2 linked regions of the Homo sapiens genome follow. The protein of the gene in region 1 purifies or fractionates together with the protein of each later gene. This does not show direct contact. Each region holds a gene or a part of one and is shown on either strand. Other genes may lie near its edges.

What was found. The genes of interacting proteins can lie anywhere in the genome.
Region 2: the proteins of RNF215 (region 1) and CAPN15 purify together in Homo sapiens (affinity purification with mass spectrometry; one large-scale study listed by BioGRID and IntAct). This does not show direct contact.

The regions. Positions count from the first base shown.
Region 1 is NC_000022.11:30,384,612-30,388,624, forward strand, and holds the start of RNF215 (RING finger protein 215 precursor), read right to left. Parts: upstream 2,801-4,013; 5' UTR 2,703-2,800; coding exon 2,418-2,702; intron 2,149-2,417; coding exon 2,005-2,148; intron 1,531-2,004; coding exon 1,459-1,530; intron 1,379-1,458; coding exon 1,293-1,378; intron 1-1,292.
Region 2 is NC_000016.10:530,712-534,211, forward strand, and holds part of CAPN15 (calpain-15), read left to right. Parts: intron 1-3,234; 5' UTR 3,235-3,287; intron 3,288-3,500.

The sequences.
Region 1 (4,013 bases):
ACACTTTGCCCCAGGCCTTTTCCCTCTATTGGTTTTTCCAATTTTCACACCAGCCAGGCCAGGGAAGCCTGCAAGTCCATCTTCCTCCTTGCTGGGGCCAGTCCTCTCTGCCCACAGAGCCACTTCCTTGCTCCAAGCTCCAGGCTCTGGCACCTCCTTCCCATCCCCTCACCCATTTTTCAGCCTGGGACAGGACAGTCTTTCTTTTTTTTTTTTTTGAGACAGGGTCTCCCTTTGTCACCCAGACTGGAGTGCAGTGGCACAGTCACAGCTCACTGCAGCCTCTACCCCCGGGGCTCAAGTGATCTTCCCACTTCAGCCTCCTGATTAGCTGGGACTACAGGCATGTGCCACCATGCCCAGCTAATTTTTGTATTTTTTTGTAGAGACTGAGTCTTGCCATGTTGCCCAGGCTGGTCTCAAACTCCTGGACTCAAGTGATACTCCTTCTTTGGCTTACCAAAGTGCTGGGATTACAGGCATGAGCCACCATTCCCAGCCGAGAGGGCAGTCTTAAAGCTAACAGTTGGCTGGGTACGGTGGCTCACACCTGTAATCCCAGCACTTTGGGAGGCCGAGACGAGTAGATCACAAGGTCAGCAGATCGAGACCATCCTGGCTAACATGGTGAAACCCCGTCTCTACTAAAAATACAAAAAAATTAGCCGGGCATGGTGGTGGGCACCTGTAGTCCCAGCTACTTGGGAGGCTGAGGTGGGAGAATGGCATGAACCCGGGAGGCAGAGCTTGCAGAGAGCCGAGATCGCGCCACTGCACTCCAGCCTGGGTGACAGAGCGAAACTCCATCTCAAAAAAAAAAAAAAAAAAAAGTTAACAGTTAGGCCGGGCCCTGCCAGGCCCAGCCACAGTGGCAGCAGGGGCAGCAGCAGCAGCAGTGGCAACGGGGGCTCCTGCCTGTAATCCCAGCACTTTGGGAGGCCGAGGCAGGTGGAACTGAGGTCAGGTGTTCAAGACCAGCCTGGCCAACATGGTGAAACCCTGTCTCTACTAAAAATACAAAAAATTAGCTGGGTGTGGTGGCACATGACTGTGATCCTAGCTACTTGGGAGACTGAGGCAGGAGAATCACTTGAACCTGGAAGGCAGAGGTTCCAGTGAGCCGAGATTGCGCCACTGCACTCCAGCCTGGGCAACACGAGTGATACTCCATCTCAAAAAAAAAAAAAAAGGCTAACAGGTAAGGCCCTGGTCCCAAGCCCCCTCAGTCCATGGGAGAACCAGGGGCTCTCTGTACCCAGGGTCAGTCCTTTGAAGTCTAAATACCAACTCACTGCAGCAATGCATCCAACAGCTTGGTGACATTGGAGGAATAATGGAGGACGATCACTGGCCTGAGCAGAAGCTGGGATATGTCCAGCTGCAGGGAGACAAGGAGGTCAGCAGGCCTGGGTCCCCCTTTCCCCAGCTTGCTTACCCTCACGGCCTGGTCCGATTTACCTCTCGGACCACGTTGTGGTTCAGGATGAGAAGAAGCAGGGCAGAGGCACCCAGGAAGAGGGCCCGCCGCATCTGCAGAGGGATAGAAGGCGAGAGGCTAGCATATACCCTGCCTGCACACCTGTCTCACCACCTGCAGCCCTAGCTGCTCTTAGCTCCTGGCCCTGCAGTGAGCAAAACTCTGGACAGACTGCCATAAGCTCCTTGAGGTCAAAGGTGGAAACTGCTTTCTTCCTCCTGCCTCCCTTCCAGATGCGCTGTGCCTTCCCCGGTCCTATCAGGGCAGTCCCAGCAGTGGTCGTCAGCAGCAGCTCCCCCATCCCATACTCTCAGAGCCTGGTCAAGCTTCTCAACCTCTCTCTGGCCTCCTCTCACCTCCCTGCTTCGAAGCCATACTGACTCCATTCTTCAAACTGGGGTGCCCTGACCCACCAGGCCTAGGGCTTCTCTGCAAGCTCTTAAGGGCCCATCTAAGGAGGGCCTGGCTCTAGCAGATGCCTTGGAATCCTTTCCTCCAGCCCCCTCCCCCATAGACATCCCCTGCACCTGCTGGACCAGGGCCTTGGGATAGGCCTGCGGGCCACTGCCCTTATTCTCCTGGTGGAACTGGGCCGCCTGCTCCTTGCCCACGTATGCCACTGCAATCCAGCCTTCCACTGGTGCCTCCTGCTCGGCATCCACGATGTCCATCTGTGTGGCAAGGGGCCATGAGCAGAGGGAGGTAGGGTGTGGTGGGGGAGGGAGCCGGGGTCATCACAGTGGATGCCAAGGCCAGAGTTCCCAGAGCATCTGGCTCTCTGGTTTGGGAAGCCGGAATGCTGGGGGCCTGGGGAGCCTGGGGAGGGGCGCTGGACTCTCAAGGCTTGGTGGAGGATGAACGTCGGTTCAGGGTGCGGGGTCTCTAGGGAGGGTTGAGAGAGGGGTTTAGTGATGCGGCCAGATGGCTCAGCAGCGCTCACCAGCAGCAGACGACCGCCCAGCAGGGGCGCCGGGTCGGCTTCGGAGCCGATCCTGACGCCCTCCAGGACCAGAGCGTCCTGGCGCGGCAGTCTCACGTCCACCCGCACGGCGCGGGCTCCGCCCCGCCCCGCCCCGGCCGCCGGCTCGCTGCCGTCCGCCGCGGCCCCGGGCCCCGCCAGGCCCAGCCACAGCGGCAGCAGGGGCAGCAGCAGCAGCAGCGGAGACGGAGGCGGCGGCGGAGGCGGCGGCGGCGATCTCAGCGCGGGGCGAGCGGCGGGGCCCATGGCCGGACCCGGCGAGCTGGCCCAACAGTGGGGCCAGGGGTCCCGGGCGCGGGGGGGATCGGAGGGAGCGAGGCCGCTGCCGGACGGGGCGGGGCGCCGGGAGGGGCGGGGCCGCGGCCGGACGGGGCGGGGCACCAGGAGGAACGGAGTGGGCGCTTGGCGGCTCTCGCGCCCAGACTGGGCCGCGGGCGCCCCCTGGTGGCCGCGGAGAGCTCAGGTGCCCGCGGCTGAGGGAGCTGGAGAGGGGCAAAACCGGGGTCGCAGCGGGAAGGCGGAAAGTCAGAGAGAGGAGGTGCTTCGGCAGCGGACGCGTCAGCGGGGCAGACAGGAAAATAGTTGGAAAGGGCGACCTGGGGGAGCAGAGACACGATCAGAGCCTGAGAAGGGCAGGAGCAAGGGATGTCTAAGGGGCCTGGTGGCAGGCCCTTGTTCTGCGGCAGCCCCGTGGACCCACGGGGTGGCCAGGGCCAAGTCACATCCCTCTCTTCCCCGGTCCTCCCTGTCTCGACCCCACTAAACAGCAGGAGGCAGAGAACCAGAGACTGGCGTGGGAAGCCGACAGGGGAGATAGAGGGGCAGGGGAAAGGGGCTGGGGGGCAAGGCAAAACGAAGCAGGCAGGGACTCAGTGCCTCAGTGGGACCGAGAGGCTGGGTCACTTCCCTCATCTGTGAAATGGGCACCATAGGCCGGGCGCGGTGGCTCACGCCTGTAATCCCAGCACTTTGGGAGGCCGAGGCGGGCGGATCACCTGAGGTCGGGAGTTCGAGACCCGCCTGACCAACATGGAGAAACCCCGTCTCTACTAAAAATACAAAATTAGCCGGGCGTGGTGGCGCATGCCTGTAATTCCAGCTACTCAGGAGGCTGAGGCAGGAGAATCGCTTGAACCCGGGAGGCGGAGGTTGCGGCGAGCCGAGATCGCGCCATTGGAATCCAGCCTGGGCGACAAGAGTGAAACTCCGTCTCTAAATAAATAAATAAATAAATAAGCACCATGTACAATCAACACTGCCTCACCCCCAGCAAATAACTCAAATGTCTACTGGAATGTGGAAGTTCCACTACTGTTCTAAAACTTGTCCGTTTCTCCAAGGGTTGGGGCTGCTGGGAGCTGGCTCAGTCTGAAACCTGAGCCTTTAAAAATTGTATGGTGGGCAGGGCGCGGTGGGTCACGCCTGTAATCCCAGCACTTTGGGAGGCTGAGGCAGGCGGATCATGAGGTTAGCAGATCGAAACCATCGTGGCTAACAAGGTGAAACCCCGTCTCTACTAAAAATGCAAAAAAATAGCCGGGCATGTTGGGAGGCGCC
Region 2 (3,500 bases), on another chromosome or scaffold:
GGCCCACAGGGTGCACGGAATGGGGTCTGTGGGAGGATGGGGGCATCCTAGCCCAGGGCAGGGACCCCGTGGGCCCCCCAAGATGAGCTGCGTCAGGCTGTTGCTTTGCACACTCTGAGGGGCCTGCCTGAGTGCTGCATGGGAAGCCAGCAGTGTGGCCGCCCTCCCCAGAACTCATCCAGGGCACCAGGGTGGACCCATGAGTCCCGTCGGGTCATGGGCATCAGCCTCGCCATCCTGGCCTCCAGATACAACGATTTGTCAGATTCCCTGAGGTCAAAGGGAAGCTTCAAGGGTTGCCATCCCCGCCTCCCTGGCGGTCCTAGACGGGATGTCAGGAGGACGCAGGGCCATCGCTGCTTTTTAAATGTCACAGTGACTGCAGCGTCTGCTCCTCTGTGGAAGGAGCTTGCTCCGCTAATGAGGGAGTTCCTCCTCATGGCCTTCCCCTCACTTCTCTTCAAAAAGTTGCCCTTTATTTTAACATTTTTTAAGTTTTATTTTTTTGAGCCAGGGTCGTGCTCTGTTGCCCACGCTGGAGTGCAGTTGCAATCATAGCTCGCTGCAGCCTCAAACTCCTGGGCTCAAGTGATCTTCCTGCCTCAGCCTCCCAAATACTGGGACTACAGGTGGGCGCCACCACACCCAGCCTCTGCCCTTTGTAAGTGAAGTCCCCCAGGCAGGTTGAACCTCTTACACCTTCTGCCCCTGCCTGATCCCCACTCCCTACCCCCCACCTCCCTGTCCCCTGTAATGAGAAAGGCAATAAGTTTTGGAGCTTTCTGGAGTTCCTGCCCCTCCTGAAAAGGTGGCTGCAGAGAGGCTGGAGCTGATGGGGAAAGAGGTGCCACGAGGCCTCCTCTGGGTTAGGGCCACACGGCTCCCAAGGCCCCCGTCTCCTTCTCTGGGGTGACAGGTGCCCCCAGGGCCACACGGCTCCCAAGGCCTCCGTCTCCCTCTCTGGGGTGACAGGTGCCCCCAGGGCCACACGGCTCCCAAGGCCTCCGTCTCCTTCTCTGGGATGACAGGTGCCCAGGGCCACACGGCTCCCAAGGCCCCCGTCCCCTTCTCTGGGGTGACAGGTGCCCCCTGTGTCCCAGAGGCTTCTGCTTGGCCACCAGTGAGGTCACCGGGCTGCCCAGACCAGGGCTGCTTCTGCCACCACATGGCAAGCAGAGAAGTAGAGAAGTGCCAAAAACCACGAGTGCTTGTCTGGTCCTTTTTTCCTGTTAAAAATAGAAGTCGGGGCTGGGTGCGGTGGCTGACACCTGTAATCCCAGCCCTTTCAGAGGCCGAGGCAGGTGGGTTGCCTGAGGTCAGGAGTTCGAGACCAGCCTGACCAAAATGGCGAAACCCCATCTCTACTAAAAATAAAAAAATTAGCTGGGTGTGGTGGTGTGTGCCTGTAATCCCAGATACTCAGGAGGCTGAGACTGTAGAATTGCTTGAACCTGGGAGGCGGAGGTTGCAGTTAGCCGGGATGGCACCACTGCACTCCAGCCTAGGCGACAGAGCTATACTCCGTCTCAAAAAAAAAAAAAAGAAAAAAAAGTAGAATTCGGTTGGGCTCAGTGGCTCATGCGTGTAATCCTAGCACTTTGGAAGGCCAAGGTGGGTGAATCACATGAGGTCAGGAGGTAGAGACCAGCATGGCCAACGTGACGAAACCCCCATCTCTACTAAAAATACAAAAATTAGCTGGGCGTGGTGGTGTGTGCCTGTAATCCCAGATGTTTGGGAGGCTGAGACACTAGAATTGCTTGAACCCGGGAGGCAGAGGTTGCAGTGAGTCGAGATGGCACCACTGCACTCCAGCCTAGGTGACAGAGTGATACCCTGTCTCAAAAAAAAAAAAAAAGCCAGCCGCTGTGGCTCACGCCTGTAATCCCAGCACTTTGGGAGGTCAAGGCGGGTGGATCACCTGAGGTCAGGAGATTGAGACCATCCTGGCTAACACGGTGAAACTCCATCTCTGCTAAAAATACAAAAAAATTAGCCGGGCCTGGTGGCAGGCGCCTGTAGTCCCAGCTACTCGGGAGGCTGAGGCAGGAGAATGGCGTGAACCCAGGAGGTGGAGCTTGCAGTGAGCCGAGATCACACCACTGCACTCCAGCCTGGGCAACAGAGCGAGACTCTGTCAGAGAAAAAAAAAAAAAAAACAGGTGATGCCTGTGCCACTGGACACACCTGCACACCATCCTCATGCTGATCACAAAAGAGGGTGAGGGGCCGGGCATGGTGGCTCATGCCTGGAATCCCAGCACTGGGGGAGGCCGAGGCGGGTGGATCACCTGAGGTCTGGAGTTCGAGACCAGCCTGACCAACATGGTGAAACCTCGTCTTTACTAAAAATACAAAAATTAGCTGGGCACGGTGGCGGGCGCCTGTAATCCGAGCTACTTGGGAGGCTGAGGCAGGAGAATAGCTTGAACCTGGGAGGCGGAGGCTGCAGTGAGCTGAGATTGCACCACTGCACCCCAGCCTGGGTGACAGAGCGAGGCTCTATCTCAAAAAATAAAATAAAAAATTTAAAACCAACAAAAAAGAGGGTGATGGCTGAGTGAGGAGTCCATGGTGGGCCCTACACAGGGCCCAGGAAGGACAGGGCGGGAAGCGTGAGCATCCTGCCCACCGCAGTGGGTCCGCCATGGAGAGCATGACCTTAGAGAAGCAAAGCCGCCTGGCTCGAAGCAGTGGCCGCCCTGCTGACAGCTGTAGTGGCCGGGTGGCACTCGGGCTGGGGTCCGGGGGAGTCTAGGTGGCCACCTGGCTGTGTGCCTGTGCCTGCCCAAGCTGGGCACCTTTCCCTGGCAGTGCCTGGGAAGCTCGGCCGCCCTCCCTGGCTGGTGCTGCTCTGCAGCCCCGCTCATGGACTCTTGCCCACGGCCTGCTCCTTGTAGCAGGGTCGGGCCGTGGGAGGTCCGGACAGGATCTTGAATGGCCCTGTCTGCGGTCCTGGCTGGCCGGAGGTTGACCGCACTGGACAGGTCAAGGGCCTTAAACCAGGGTAGTGAGGAGCCTGCTGAGCCCCTGCTGCTCCCCGGGCTGCCTTTGGCGCTCGGACAGACACCCAAGGACAGAAGCTCGGACAGCTTCTAAGGCGAAGGGTCTCCCGGGGCTGATTTCCCGGGACTCTGGCTCCTGCAGAGAGGGCTGGAGGCGGGGCTCTGTGTTCCAGGGTCAGAGTCCTCCTGGTGGAAGCTGAGGTGCCTGATTAAATGCCTCCCTTTCTAGGCAGCAGCCCAGACGCGGCACAGAGAGGGCCTGGGAGCTTGCTGCAGCTTCAGGTGAGTTTGTTCCCAAGCCCTGCGGCTCGTTTATGGGTTTGCTTGCGCTGCAGAACTGTTTGTGGAGCAGCAGGGTTGGAGTGCCCACGGCTGGGGGGCCTCTCGGAGCCCTTGATTCACAGAACCCCTGGAGGCCGGCAGCCCTGCCTGCCCTGAAGAGCCTCGTTCTCCCAGCCGTTTGGGCCGTGGTCCTGTCGTGGGAGGCGACGGTGA